Regions from separate parts of the Homo sapiens genome. Here region 2 is linked to region 1. A link means that fine-mapping ties the variant in region 1 to the expression of a gene that starts in the linked region. Tissue or cell type: subcutaneous fat. Region 1 holds a variant in brackets; the other region holds the start of a gene. All regions are shown on one strand. Distances are between the middles of the regions.

Region 1 (8,149 bases):
AATCCTCTGCAAGACCACGTAAGTGGAGAAGAGGTTTAGAAACAAGCAGTTCACTGGAGAGACAGATGAAGAGAAAGGAACCTCCTTACACACCCTAAATACCAACATCAGGTAGAGAAAGAGCCGCCTGGTTGCCTTTTCCCGTAGCCTTCATCCAAGCACACTGTTATGATTCTTTTTCTTCTTTTTAAAGCAGCATACACTTAGAGGGATCTTTGATCTGAAAGGAATATCTTGAAACTCTACCTACCGTTCATGAGGGCATAGGTGAGAATCATTACAGAGTTGTTTAGAAAGCTATTTTCTTCATTGATGACTTGGAGAGTCGCTTTTTTATCTTCTTCCGAAGAGTCCTTTGATGTAATGCCAGCTGACAGGTAAATGATGACCATGTCTGTATCTAAACAAAAACACATCAATTGAATGCTCTCTTTGGATTCCAGCTAAAGGCAGCAGTTCAGTTTCCTGTTCATGTCCTTGGACTTCCCCACCTCGAGGACTTGCCTAGCCCACGGTTCCTAGTCCCTCCTGTTTGATGCTGTGGCTTTCATCCCCCTGCTTCTGCCTTTCTTCCATTCCACCCTTTCTGGACAATGAGGCCACATTTATGCAGCATCAGGTAAGGAGATGTTCCTAATATATTTATCAGATGAAAGGAGGCGATTTCCTTTAGGCACCAATGGTTATAGTAATTTAAGCCAATCCAAATGGAAATCTCTCCTGCCTTCTGAAACAGATGATGCAGAACGCGACTTATCCTTTCCTCTGTGATGCAGGAACATCACCATGAATGCTCGTTTCTTGAGGACCAGGCTTTAAAATGATGACTCTTTCGGGCTCTTCAGGCACATAATGTTATTTGCTCCTAGACTAAATATCTTTAGGTAATTTTCATTTAAAAATCTCATCAGTAGAGCAGTGAAACATGGACTTAGAAGCCAGGTAACTGTGTTCAAAGCCCAGCTCTGCTACTTACAAGCTGTGTCTGGGTAATTGAGGCAAATTTCTCAACCTCTCTACAACTAATTTTCTTTGTCTATAAAATGGGAGTAATGACAGGACTGACTTAGTAGTGTTGCTGTGAAGAATAATTGGTTATTTTACGTAAAGACTATCAGCAAAAAGGTGATAAAAAAAGAAGGTAAAAGAGAAAAAAAAGAAACTACAACACACACACAAAATGAAAACAAAAACCATGCCATTGGATTGAAGGAGCACCCCTGAGTTAGAAGTGAAATTATTTTCCAAATAGGGCTGCGAGGTAGAATAACTGAGAGTTAATTTTGGTCCCGTAGAACTTCTGTCAAGTGGGTTGACTAAAAAAAAACAAAGGTGATTAATTTCCTACAATTAGAGATAAATAAGCAGAGGCTAAATGACCACAATAAAAAGAGGGAAGTCAGAGAGCTGGACTTTTACATCTTCTTCCTAATCTGTAATTCTTTGATTTAACATATATATATATATATATATATATAATGTTGAGAGTGTGTGTGTGTGTGTGTGTGTGTGTGTGTGTGTGTGTGTCTGTATATATATATATTTTAAGACTGAGTCTTGCTCTGTTACCCAGGCTGGAGTGCAGTAGTATGATCTCAGCTTACTGCAATCTCCTCCTCCAGGGTTCAAGCGATTCTCATGCCTCAGATTACTGTAGTGGGACTACAGGCACGTGCCATTATGCCTGGCTAATTTTTTGTATTTTTAGTAGAGATGGGGTTTCACCATGTTGGCCAGGCTGGTCTTGAACTCCTGACCTCAAATGATCTGCCCGCCTTGGCCTCCCAAAATGCTGGGATTACAGGCGTGAGCCACCACGCCTGGCCTCAATAAAAATTTTTAGGACATCCTACATATTTATCTTTTTACTGAGAAATATTTATATAATATGTTATACACTTACTTCTTCAGGTTTCTGTTATTGTGTTTTAGTTGAGGTTGCTCTAAAGTGACTGCGGCAGGCAACCTCAAACTTGGTCCCTTAGTGATTCCATGTCTTGACATTCATTCACCTCCTGGGGTAGCTGCCTCCCTTGAGTGTGGCTGGATTTAGTGAGTCACTTATAATGACTAGAATGCGGCAGAGGTGATGGGACATCAAGACAAAGACTAGGTTACAAAAAGACTGTGGCTTCTGCAAGGGGGGCTTTCTCACTCTGAAGAAAGCCAGCTGGCAGGCTGTAAGCAGTCCTATGGAGAGGCAAGGAACAGAGGCCCCTGGAACTGAAGATCCTGCCAGCAAAAGTGTGAGTGAGCTTGGAAGCAGCTATTTCCCCAGTAGAACTTTGAGAAGACAGCAGCTCTGGGCAATAGGCTGACTGCCGTCTCAAGAAACTCGTTGGGCCAGAGGCACCCAGCTATGCTGTGTCCAGATTCCTGAAGTACAGAAACTATGAGACAATAAAGATGTATTAAGCCACAGAGTGTTGGAATAATTTGTTACACAGCAATAGTTAATGAATATAGCTACCCTTTAAAAAATTATCCTAATGGTGAAGACACAAAACTTGAATTTCCTTCAAATTATACATTTCCATTTTAGATTTAAGTATTCTTTATTAGGCAGAATTTAACAGTTAACTTATAATATATGAATGTCATAGATAACTGAACTGAGTTTAACAAAATTTGACTCTAAGAAATAAATGCATTCAAAATTCCTCTTATTTACTCCTAATACTTAATACCAATTTTGATACCTGAACATTCTCTAGTGAACATTAACTGCACATTTAAATTTCACTATTTAGTTATCAGAGATTAGGAAGTGAATGCTGATGCAAAAAGAAAATCCACACTTTAGGAATATTCTTGTCTTAAATTAGATGTCAACAAACCAGATGTCAATATTTTTTCAGTTGTATATACAGTTCAGTAAATTATTTTATAAGGACCCTAAACAGTTCATTTAAACTTCAGACTGAAAAATACAAAAACAAAAATTGCTTGAGTCCCTAGTTGGAGGGAACATATATACATAGATACAGCATGAGGAGGATCTATGGTATGACACAAACCATCTCCTCATGGCAAAAGTATATGTGTGATAAATTCCTGGACACATCTAGGGTGACCTAAAAGAGAACCCTAGTCTCTAAGTTGTCTCACTTAGCCTTATGATTCTGCATAAAATACACTGTCATTTAGAGCTGTTTCTAGGGCAAAGGTCCATGTCTGGAAGGCCAGAAAGCTAGCAGCCCTTGAGCTGCTTTGGTAGCCAAGCACATTTTCTTTCCATTCCAACAATAAGACATACACTCTGTAAGAATCCTCGCTGGCTCTGTCCAACCCCTGACTCCATTCCCACCTTATCCTCAAGAAAAATTGAGTTATTTTTCCATTCTTATCAGATCTGTCAAATTTGGTTTGATTTGTTTTTTTAATGCATTGGGATATTCCCTTTTTAGTCACCCACTTAGAGCAATTTTAGGGGCAAGCAATTACAGGGACTTGGGGTAGAGCAGAGATGCAGCATGTAACTGGAAGAAAATGTAATAGCTCTCCATTTGCTGAGTCTCTCTATAAGCCACCAGGCATGTCTTGGGGTCAACATCAAAAGGGGAAGAGCGACTCATATTTAGGCTTTGCCCATACCATTAGATCTCCACTCTTAACCATCTTTAATTGAGGTTCATTATGATCCTCAACTAATCAGCTCCAAAACAAATTCAGAAGAAACAACTCCAGGATGTTAATGCTGTCAGTTAAAGATCTACCATAAGACTGAAAAAAGGGTCAGAATTGGACAAAAGTTTTAGACCTTCTGGTTGATATAAGGCAAATTAGTGTCAACCAACAATGATTTATGACATGTAGCTTATTTTTATATGGCTACCAATGTGGGCATACACTTTACTTTCATGTACAGACTAACCCTTACAACAATCGTCAAGAGTAGGTCTTATTATTTGAATAACCTCACATGTGGCACCTAAAACAGCACCAGATATACAGTAGACATTAAATAATTGTCTGTAGAGTGAAGAGAAATAGTGATGTATAGAGTTTACACTAGAATAAACTTCTAGGAAGTGTATACAGACCCCTTGCTACACTGTTGCCTAGGCCTTGGCCATCTTTGGGCCTGAGGTCAACTTAGGACATCTAGGGCATCTGATCTAGTTTAGCTGGAGCTAGAAGTCTTATAGGAAACTGAATATCATAATAATCACAGGAAATATGCATTGGATATTTATGATGGAATCCTGGATATTATCACCCCTCCATTTACAGGTGAGGAATCCAGGTCTGGAGAAAATAAAACAATATAGACAAATCCACAAGGTTAGAAAAATTTCAGAGTAGAACACTAGTTGAAATCTATAACCTGCATAACTCCTGGGCAATATTGCCTGAGAGTACCCTGGGACTGCTCCTTAATAAACTGGACAACGCTCATTCCTGAAGTCTTTTCTTTATACAAACTAATCTAGGTTATTTTTTCTCTAAACTGTCAGTAAAAGCTATAAACTAGAGGCCAGTGAGCTAAGCCTTAGAAACATCTTACTTGGGCTAAAAAGGGCTCCTCTGAGTATTTAGAAAACTGTGCCTTCAAAATTTGTCCAAGTCTTTAATGGTCAATCTTCTTGCCATGTTTTTGTTTGCCAACATTAAGAAAAACAACACAGAAAAATCCAGAGGAGAAATGCCTCTCATCAAACCAGCCTCCTGCTCATGTGCAGTGCAGGAATGTCTGTGAGAAGAGATTTAATGAGGTCTCTATTCACAGTTTTAAAGCTGGAACAAATGTCAACATTTGAAAATCAAGGGATTTCACATGAAAATCCAGATTTCTGGCATCTCTTGAAACAGAAGATCTGGCAGCACTGGGCAGACATTCCTGCTCAATGGACTGAACAGAGGAGCAGCTACCCTCTGGATGGTGCATGTGTCCATGTGACCATGTTCTCCAACTCATCCTCATTACCTTCCCCCAGCTCACTTGACTCAAATGCGCTGCCTGGCCACTGTGGACATCTGAGTTTGCAACTGCTAGTCTAACATTTCTCTCCATTATTTGAAAAGTATAATAATCAAAACTAGACTTTAAAGATGGTCTGATGACAGAAGAATTTGGTAGAAAGAACACTTCTAGTGAGGAATGCTGACAGGTGGGT[G/T]GCATTGACAAACAGGCCAATCTGCCTTGAGTACTTGAATTCAGCCTTGTTAACTGACCTTACTGAACCAAGGGCAACTTTACGCTCAGCCACCCCATAATATTGGCTTGTGGATAGCTGATGCTTGCCAAAGCTGGTAGGCCAAATTCTAAGATGATCTAAATGAGCAACATCCTGTATACTGCTGAATATACAGGATGTCCTGTATACGGGACATAACCTGTAACTTGCTTCTAAGAAGAAGAATATGGCAAGTAATGAGCCATTACTCCTGTGATGGTGCTTGCAAAGATGGATGGATGTTTGCCGAGGTCCCTGATAAACTTACATTGAGTTAATCACAAGCGAGAGTAATCTGATTAAATAAATCAAAAGGGAAAGTGGGGCTGATCTAATCAGATGAGCTTGTTAAAAGAGGGCCCAAACCTTCTCTGAAGCCAGGGATTTGAAGAGATGCTCTTCTATTGGCCTTGAAGAAGTAAATGAAATGAGTTTTACAGTTGCAAGGAAATGAACTCTGCCAACAAACGTGTGAGCTCATGTTTGTTGAACCTTAGCATGAATGAACCTTAGCATGAACAAACCTTAGCATGAACCTTAGGACTCTGAATGAACGGTAGTCCCACTGACACTCTGACAGTAGCCTGTGAGACCCTAAACAGAGGACTCAGCTAAGCTGTACTTGGACTCCTGACCCACAAAAACTGTGAGATAACAAATGTATATTGTGCTAAACTGCTAAGTTTGTGGTAATTTGTTATGCTGAGACATAAAACTAACACACCATGTACCATCATTAGTTATAATTACAGTAGCTTCCTTCTTTTGAGGATCCATTATGTGCGAGGCACTATGCTTTGCATTAATCAGTGCTTAGTTTAAACACAGACACAATGAAGGGCTTGGAAATGTATTCTTTAAATTTATCTCAATAGGATACATTAATATTTTCAAACAAAGAAAAAAACTATAAACAGATTTTTTTTTTTTTTTGAGACTGAGTCTCGCTCCGTCACCAGGCTGGAGTACAGTGGCGCAATCTTGGCTCACTGCAACCTCCACTTCCCGGGTTCAAGCAATTCTCCTGCCTCAGCCTCCTGAGTAGCTGGGATTACAGGCGTGTGCCACCATGTCCAGCTATATTTTTGTATTTTTAGTGGAGATGAGGTTTCACCATGTTGGTCAGGCTGGTCTTGATCTCATGACCTTGTGATCCACCCACCTCAGCCTCCCAAAGGGCTGGGATTACAGGCATGAGCCACCGCGCCCAGCCTATAAACAGATTTTTGAAAATAAAAGGGAAAATGAAATAGATTCCTTCAAGTAGTTTCAAAGCATGAGCCCCATTTCAAATATCTTTTCCCTTACTTTAGGATGCATCCTAATTCCAGATTTTCTTTAATACATAAAAATTAAATTAGAGGCCAGGCGTGGTGGCTCACACCTCTAATTCCAGCACTTTGGGAGGCCGAGGTGGGGGATTACAAGGTCAGGAGTTCAAGATCAGCCTGACCAACATGGTGAAACCCCATCTCTACTTAAAATACAAAAATTAGCCAGGCATGGTGGCACATGCCTGTAATCCCAGCTACTCAGGAGGCTGAGGCAGGAGAATCGCTTGAACCCGGGAGGTGGAGGTTGCAGTGAGCCGGGATTGCGCGATCACACTCCAGGCTGGGTGACAAAGTGAGACTCTGTCTCCAAAAAAAAAAAAAAAAAAAATTAAATTAGAGTGCCTTTGTACATCTGAAGGGCCATGCTCATCTAAATGACAGCTGGTTAGAAGAAGGAAGGATCAAGGCAAGAATTCCTGCTGCCCACTTCACGTCCACATGTGCACAAGCAGACTTCCACTCCAAGTCAAAGAGGAAGCAAAGCTGACAATCAGCATTAGAAAGGATGTGGAGATTCCCTTGGGACATAAGTGCAGACATGATCTAAATAAAGGGGCAGGAAGGGGAGGCTCTAAGAGTCAAGAAATTGTACAGACTGACCATCTTTGATTGGAAAAGATGAGAAAAACGCAGTTAACACTCTATAATTAGATGATGACGAAGACAACATATGACAATTTTATCCCAAATCTTTTTTTTTTTTTTTTTTTTTTGAGACAGAGTCTTGCTCTGTCACCCAGGCTGGAGTGCAGTGGCATGATCTTGGCTTACTGCAACCTCTGCCTCCTGGGTTCAAGTGATTCTCCTGCCTCAGCCTCCCGAGGAGCTGGGACTACAGGCAACCACCACCATGCCTGCCTAATTTTTTTTGTATTTTTAGTAGAGATGGGGTTTCACCATATTGGCCAGGCTGGTCTCGAACTCCCGACCTTGTGATCCGCCTGCCTTGACCTCCCAAAGTGCTGGGATTATAGGCGTGAGCCACCGCACCTCGCCCCCAATCAATTTTTTTTTAATCCCTCTACGCTGGTCGCGGTGACTCATGCTTGTAATTCCAGTACTTCGGGAGGCAAAGGCAGGTGGATTGCTTGAGTTCAAGAGTTTGAGATCAGACAGGTCTCAGCCAGTGAAACCCTTTCTTTACCAAAAATATAAAAATTAGCTGGGCGTGGTGGCATAAGCCTGTGGTCCCAACTACTTGGGAGGCTGAAGTAGAAAGATTGCTGGAGCCCAGGAAGTCAAGGCTGGAGTGAGCCATGATCACACCACTGCATTCCAGCTTGGACAGAGCAAGACTCTGTCTCAAGGTAAATAAATAAATAAATAAATACATACATAAATAAATAAATAAAATCTCTCTAAACATCATTGTGTGATCAATTTACAATATATTCCTATTGCCATCTTTATCTACTATGCCTCTAAGTCCTCTGAGAGAACGCACTCACTTGCTTGGAACTTTGTGTTATTGTTTGTACTTCGAATCAGCTGAAATGCCTTTTGGAATCCCACTGCGTGCTGGGTAGGACTGTCTGAAGACTTCACGCTGCTAACAAAGGTGGACATTTTCCTTTTTGTCTCACTGGTGGCTGGAGACAAGAAGGTCTTATAGCACTGGTCTAGTGAGCAAGTCCGGAC
Region 2 (8,149 bases), 110 kb before region 1:
AATGTTGGCCCTAAGCACTTCACATTGTCTTCTAATTTCACAAGAGACTCTCTTCAAGATTTTAGGGTAAACAAGATGACAAAAACAAAACACATGCACACACATAAGACCTGTAAGAAAAAAAACCTAAGTGAACACAAATAATCTAAGAAGCAAATGCCCCTGTTTTCTCCATTTTGAAACCCCAATGACAACAATATTGAAACAGAACCAGGTTAACCGTAATACAATTTATAGAAATACAATAACACATATATTAGAAAAAATATTAAAACATTACCTCAACCAATCAAAATTCTAAATTCAGTTGCAAAAGACCAGACACACACATATACAATGGCTATGAATAGGAACCAGCATTTGCAACATTACTATTGACTATAAATTATTCATTAAAAATAATTATAAATATTATTCACTATAAAGTACTCACTATAAATACATTCCAAAACAAAGATATAACTATAAATATTCAATTCACAGTGGCATGAGGTACTTGGGGATCTAGGTAGTTTGATAAATGTGGAATAGAATCCAATGCAGGACTGGCCGGGCACGGTGGCTCACGCCTGTAATCCCAGCACTTTGGGAGGCCGAGGCGGGCAGATCACCTGAGGTCAGGCATTCGAGAGCAGCCTGGCCAACATGGTGAAACCCTGTCTCTACTAAAAACACAAAAATTAGCCGAGCGTGGTGGCACATGCCTGTAATCCCAGCTACTCGGGAGGCTGAGGCAGAAGAATCGCTTGAACCCAGGAGGTGGAGGTTGCAGTGAGCCGAGGTCACACCACTGCACTGCAGCCTGGGCGACAGAGTGAGAATCCGTCTCAAAAAACAAACAAACAAACAAAAAATCCAATGCAAGACTAATCAGAAATGAACAGAATCCAATGCGGGACTAATCAGAAATGAGACTGATGGCTGGGTGCAGTGGCTCACACTGTGGTCCCAGCACTTTGGGAGGCAAATGCAGGAGGATTGCTTGAGTCCAGGAGGTCAAGACCAGCCTAGGCAACATAGAGATACGATGTCTCTACAAAAAATTAAAAAAAAAAAAATTAGCCTGGCATGGTGGCTTATGCCTGTAGTCCCAGCTACTTTAGAGGGTGAGAGAATCGCTTCAGCCTGGAAGGTCAAGGCTGCAGTGAGCAGTGATCGTTCCACCGCACTCCAGTCCAGGTGACAGAGCAAGTCCCTGTCTCAAAACAATAAATAAAAACTAAAAAGGAATGAGACTGGAAACGTAGGCAGGGGCCAACACACAAAAAGCCTAAGAATCTTAGACTGCTGTCCTATCATTTCATGCTTTTCAAACTCATATCTGTGTACTCCATGGTAATACAGAAATACAGAGAATCAAAAGTCAAATATAGTACATTTTCCATAAGTGTCAAGTTTATGAAAAAAAATTGGGAGTTAAATGCTATTTTTGTGTTAAATCCAATGTTACTAATAGAATATAAAATTAATATAAAATTCTCAGACAGAACACAAAACTTCAAAGCAATTTCAGTCTTGCAACAGTCTAATTCAGATTCACTGTTCTTTACTGTTAAGGACAATTTGAGGAAAAGTTTGAGAGGACGTGCAGCCAAAGGCTGGTTTTTTATGAGCAGGAGAGTGACATGATCAGATTTGTGCTTCAGGAGTATCCCTCAAGGGAAGTAGCATGCAGAAGGAGCTAAAATGTAAGAAACAGGACAGTAATGAAGGTAGGTGACAAACCGAAAAGTTGTTAACAGTGAACAAGAGACGAAAAGGACTTGAACCAGAGCTGAGGCTGTGAAAACAAAGAGGGCCAGGAAGATTCCAGAAAGCTTAGGCAGACCAGACAGGGCTTGACTGAATGCACAGTAATTATTCAGTGAGAAAGCTTTTGAGAACTTAATATAAAGGTGTTCACTTTTTTTTAGAGCCGGTACTTCTATAAGGTATTTGATAAACATACCTCTAAAAGCTTCCAGTTAAAAATACTTTCAGTATGCCTTTTAATTATAGGAACTATAAAGTTGTGGGATGCTATTATAAATCTGCTATACCAAAAATAAAACAAAATTTGAGATTTATGAAAACTACATTTAATAAAGAAAACACTCATATATTTCAAATGTTAAGAAAAAATTATTGGGTTTCTACTAGTAAGTTATTGATCAGTATTTTCTAGAGACATAAATACACAGTTTGAGAACTAGAGTTATGAATGTCTTTGATCCTTAAAGTGATATTCTAAAATAAAGAAATGAGGCCAGGCACAGTGGCTCACACCTGTAATCTCAGCACTTTGGGAGGCCGAGGCGTGTGGGATCACCTGAGGTCAGGAGTTCAAGACCGGCCTGGTCAACATGGCAAAACCACATCTCTACTAAAAAATACAAAAATTAGCCAGGCATGGTGGCAGGCTTATGTAATCCCAGCTACTTGGGAGGCTGAGGCAGGGAGAATCACTTGGACCTGGGAGGCAGAGGTTGCAGTGAGCTGAGGTCGCGCCACTGCACTCCAGCCTGGATGACAGAGCGAGACTCTGTCTCAGAAAAAAAAAAAAAGAAAGAAAGAAATGAATGAATAAACACAGTCTCTTCTGGAAAAGAACAAGAACTTAGTATTTCAAAAATATCTGATTACTTAATAATTGAACAAAAGCCATATTAACCATTTCATAAGGGTAAATATGTAGTTTTAGCACAGGTGATTTTATGTAGGCCTTACTAGCAAAAAGACACAAAATAAAATAAAGTGAAACTTTCATCAGTAAGTTGACAGTAAAATATAGTCACTAAGAAAAAGCAGACATTATAATTAAGGGAAATTGTTAAAACAAAAAATACAAAAAAATTCATGCAGAACATATGAAAATATTAGTTTAAGTAGATGAAATCTCAAAAATACAAATCCCAGTGTAATTCTGAGAAAGCTTCTATCACTAATTAAAACTGCTCCTTTTATTAGACCCTTTGATATATTTTTCATGTCTATTGCGAAGGGAAATGAGAAAGATACCAACAGCAAAGCAAGAATAGACAGAACGTCTTCAATTTGGGGTCTAAATATATTTAGAATTAATGCAAGGAATTGTGATAACAAAAACAGCTGACATTCTACAAAGACATTGAGATACTTCTCTATTTCTCTCCTCCTAGACTGTCTATACAAAGAGCTGCTATTTTTTAAATTTGTTTTTTTAAAAAATGCCATCTGCTTCTTCCAAGCCTCCTCCTTCCTGAGCTCCCTTACAGTCCTCTATTTGTATGGGCAGGGGAGGCTGCTTCCAAGAAATCAGTCCATTGCAGGTGTCCTTAACAGGTAGTATCACAAAACATTACCTGACAGATGGGAAGTGGACCATGGCGGAATGGAAAGAGTTGAAAGACAGATGAGATAAACAATACTGACAGACACTGCATTTTGAAACAAAATAGCCCCCCATGCCTACGGGTTATAAGGTTATATGTTCATATTTATTGTGAATGGCTATGTAAGGTCTCATTACATAGTAATGGGGCATTGGTCTCATTATTTTATAAGTCACATGGAAGAACTGCCATGCAATTGTCAATAGCCAGCCCTCTTGCAATTTCATGCATCCGGTTACAGGAGGAACTACAAATCCGCAACTACCAGGACAGCCCACCACACTCGGAGCAGTATATAAATTCAGGTTATATGTGAAACATGTGTGAACATCCAGACAGCTAAGAAATCCTGAAGAATCAAAGAAATGATTTCAAGCTTTTGATAAAACAAAAATATATATGCATAGGAAAAGAGAAAAGAACAACATCCCAGGATAACAATGGTTATCTTCAGGTATCAGAAATATGGGTAATTTCTGTGTCCCCTTTGTGCTTCTCTGTCTTTCCTAGCTCTCCTACAATGAGCATGCAGCTTTTGAAATCAGGGGAAAAAAAAAGTTAAATAGATGCAGAGTTTCTAATCTTAAAAGCAACAGTTAATCTGGATTAAATACACAGAGTAGCTATCTTTAAACCTCATCCAAGTCACTGAGAACAAACCCTCCAGTACTGTACTTGGCGTAGCAGGAGGCGGCTGCAAGGCTCCAAGGAGCGCAGCAATAACTCTATTCTGGGGCCTTAGCAAACTGAGAAGACAGAGTTGTTTCATAGAAACTTGGGCAAGTGCTTCTGCAACAACAGCGAAACTCACTCCCAGCTCTCTCGTGCCCCTGCCCCCTATGGCACTCCCGAGCACCGGGGACTATACGTTGGAGCCCTCGCCCCTGCCAAGGTGCTCCCGAAGCTTCGGCCCCCTCTACCCCCGCTCCCCCCCGCAAAATGTGTGCTCCACAACTCACCTCCACTCTCCTTCACCTCCTACTCCTCTACGGCCGTAGGGGAAGGAAAGACCGGGCCGAACTTGGAGGCAGCAGCCCCTGATTCCCGTGACCTTGGAGAAGCCGCTTCGCCACTCAGAGCCTCAGTTTCCCAATCTGCCCCCCTCCCTGGCAGGGCGTCTGCAGGCTAGAAACCCCAAGAACTCAGTCAAACCGAGGGGCCGCTCTCACCACTCGGCGCCGACCCACTCCCCAGGACCGCTCTGAGGCGCCCCCGATCCCAGCCTGGACACGGAGCGCCGCCCCGCCGCCCCTCGGGACGCGTCGCCCCTATCACCGTCCCAGTACCTGGCAGTTGCTGTCCTGGGGCAGGTTTTTCACCAGGATTTTCCTGCGGTTGCTCAGCTCCCGCTGCATCCGCTGCAGTCGCGCGGCGACCTCCTCAGGGTGCAGCGCGGCGGGCATCGGGTCCGGGGCGCCCTCGTGCGCTTCGGCTGAGGGGCCCTGCCCGCGCAGCCCCGGCCCCGGCCCCAGCCCCGCCGCGCTGCCCAGGCCCGCGCCCCCCTCGCCGCCGCCGTCTCCCGCCGCCGCCGCCATCTTCCCGGGCGCCCAGCGGCTGCGGACTCCTCGGAGGCTCCAGGGGAAGCGGAGAGAGAAAGCGGGAGGAGGCCCGGGCGAGGGCGAGGCGGGCAGAGGCCGCAGAGTGGGCCCAACCGCGGGGAAGGGGGGCGGTGGGAGGAGGGAGTAGAGAGAGGCGGCGCCGCAGCCAGCAGCCTGCTGGCGGGGAGAGGAAACCTGAGGCGCCGAGGAGGAGCCCGAGAACCACCTCGCGGGAACCTCCCCCGCCGGCCCCCGGCCCCGGCGCACAGGCGCGCCCGCGCCCGCCTCTCGCGGGTCCGCAGGCGGGGCCGGGCGCCGCCACCCGGACACCTGTGAGGGCGCGGACGCGCAGGCGGGCTCCCCCTCTCTGCGAGGCCTTCGCGAACGCCCAGGGTCGTTCTCTGGGGGATGCGGCCCCTTCGCGGTGGCTTCGCCGGGAGACTCAGCCCCAGGCGCCTGTCCCCGGCTGGCCCCCCATGTGACGCCGCAGCTCTCCCCCGGCTCCCCTCGAAACTCCCGCGCTGGGGCGGCCCGGGGGCTGCGGGCGCGAACTCGGTCTTCCCACACCCGAGATGGGGCTGGAGGGGTGGCAGGAGGGCGCCTCCTGCAGCCCGGCTGGCTCCCGATGGTAACCCTTCTGTTGGTTCAAGAAGAGCATATTTGGCAAAGTTTGAGTTTACAATGAGATTTTCTGGGGAGTAAAAAGAGGGACATTGTGGGAGAAATGTTATGTATTTGGTAAAACCTGATCGTAATGTATTTTGCTAGCTGTGTATGAGAAAGCCTGTGCCCTTCACCTGTCCCTCTGTCCCTGTCATGCAGTTCCTAAAATGTAAAACCTGGGTAGTTGGGTCTGCAACATGGAAAGTGATGCTGAAACAAAGACTAGAATGGAAAAGGAGCTGTGGCAGAGGGGCTGGAGAATACGCTGCTTGGAACATTATTTTAATTGAAACTTGGAGGGAGAGTTACAGTGTAGAACTATACTTAGTCAAACGGATGTCATCAGATCAAACAATCCAGCAGCCTTTGGCACTAGCCCAGGTGACCATCAGCGAAGGGGACCATGCATCTTAATTGTGTAGCATGCAAGTACACTAGCAAAAAAAAAAAAAAAAAAAAAAAAAAGACTTTAACACTAATTAAAAGAAAAACAAAATGTTTTAAAGATTTTTTAAAAATACTACAAATTCAGTCCTTACCATGTGCTCCCCCCAACCACGCATTTCTAAATGCTTTACATATACATATTTATTTACTCTTCATGATCATTCAATTACGTAGGTTTTGTTTTCCTCACTTTACACGTGAGGAAATGGGATCTGTTCTGATTGATTCCAAAGCCCAGTGTTCTGAATAACATAAAATAATTCACCCGTAATCCGTCCACCCAAAAATAATGGCTGCTAATACTTGTATCATTAAAATGATATTCGGCAATACACCCTTCTATACCACCACTATTCCTGGTAACCAAAGGATAGAAACAACCCAAATGTCCATTTATTGATGAACAGATAGGCAAAGCGTGGGATATATATATGCTAAGAAATATTTTTAGCCATAAAAAGGAATTAAGGACCCCTACAAGGTGGACGAACCTCCAAAGCATTAAATGAAAGAAGCCAGAGACAAAAGGTCATATATTGTATGATTCCATGCGTATAAAATATCAGAATAGGTAGATTCATAGAGCGGAACACAGATTGGTGTTTACCAAGGGCTGGAGGAGAAGGTAATGGGTGCAAACATCCTTATGGAATGATGAAAATCTAGTTTTGGAACTAGACAGAGGGGGCAGTAGCCCAATAATATGAATGTACTAAATAGTCACTGAACTATTCACTTTTAAAATATTAATTTTATTACGTGACTATTACTGCATAAAAATGTTTTTGAATGATATTCTGTAGTTTACAGCTCTGTTTTCTGCTTTTTACAGTATGTCTGCTGAATCCCTTTCTATGCCAATGTATTTGAATACCATGGTTTTTATGGCTGCATATTATTCTGTTGAATTAGAAAATTCACTTATTTCCTAGCATTAGTATTTCCTATTATTTTTATCTATTGTAAACAGCACTGAGTTTAACCCTCTATACATATTTGAAGATCATTACTTTTCCACAGAGTGAAGAACTAGAAGCAAAATTTCTGCATCTAGAGTAAGCATATTTAAGGATTTTTTGTATGTATTTACAAACTTACCTCAGTTTTCCCTATCACAAGCATTGTATAAGAGCACTTATTTCTCTGCTTGCATCCATGATATTCTAGTATTAATGTATCATTTTGCTTTTAAATTGTATTCCTTTGATTTTAAAAGGTATACATTTTAAACTCCAATAAGGCCCTATTTTGTAGAGCTGAGAGACTTTGAAAAGTACATTCTTTGAAGTGAAGAAGCATGAATAGCCTTAGCATAGGCTGTAACCTTGAGTCATTCATTATGTTTCAGAACATGTATTTATCCAAATGAGTACCACCTCCTTGGCAAACATTTATTAAATGTCCCTTATGTGCTAGATAATATATAAAGGCAATAAGAAGACAGAAATAGTAAAATAATGCTCCTGTACAATAGGGGCTAAGTCTCACTGAGAGAAAATTATGCAATGATTATAATTAAATATAATAAATATGCAAACGGATAGTGGTCTGAATATAACTTCAGTGATTGCTTTTGCTCAAAACATTCTCCAAAGTGCTTTTTTTTTTTCTTTTGTGACGGAGTCTTGCTCTGTTGCCCAGGCTGGAGTGCAGTGGCGTGATCTTGGCTCACTGCAACCTCCGCCTCCCAGGTTCAAGCGATTCTCCTGCCTTACCCTCCAGAGTAGCTGGGACTACAGGCGTGTGCCACCAAGCCCAGCTAATTTTTTGTATTTTTAGTAGAGACGGGGTTTCACCATGTTAGCCAGGATGGTCTTGATTTCCTGACCTCATGATCCGCTCGCCTCGGCCTCCCAAAGTGCTGGGATTACAGGCGTGAGCCACCACGCCCAGCCCCAAAGTGCTTTTTTGGAATTGACTTTATAATCTACAGCAAATTATTCTGCATAGTTTATGTGGTAGCAAATACTCACCTCTTAGAGATGGGTTTAATTTTTGGAAATAATTAAATGTTATTTGAGGTTAAGTCTGGTGAATGAATCAGGTGTTGATTATGTTTTGGGAGTTATGATAATGTAATTCCAGTTTTGGCCCCAATGGGGACATGATTACAATGTTATCAAATTATTAAGCCAATTTTATTAAGTGGCT

Direction of the effects. Alleles are on the strand shown, and positions count from the first base shown. SD is a standard deviation of normalised expression in the study named.
With allele T in place of G in region 1, the expression in subcutaneous fat of the gene that starts at base 4,983 in region 2 is higher (large effect, 2.0 SD a copy in TwinsUK).

The links. PIP is the estimated chance that this variant, and not a neighbour inherited with it, causes the effect.
Region 2: it holds the start of RAVER2, and the variant in region 1 is fine-mapped to the expression of RAVER2 in subcutaneous fat (TwinsUK, PIP 0.95).

Annotation. Positions count from the first base shown.
Region 1 is chr1:64,634,071-64,642,219 of GRCh38, reverse strand. It overlaps CACHD1 (cache domain containing 1), which reads right to left. Exons shown (of 27, transcript NM_020925.4): 7 at 7,960-8,149; 8 at 251-400. Among named protein-coding and RNA genes, the nearest start is that of MIR4794, 58 kb to the right of the region's middle. The variant G/T (reference allele first, on the strand shown) is at 5,118.
Region 2 is chr1:64,741,909-64,750,057 of GRCh38, reverse strand. RAVER2 (ribonucleoprotein, PTB binding 2) reads right to left here and starts at 4,983. Exons shown (of 12, transcript NM_001366165.2): 1 at 4,637-4,983. The coding sequence starts at 4,885. RefSeq lists silencers at 5,010-5,209, 5,230-5,329.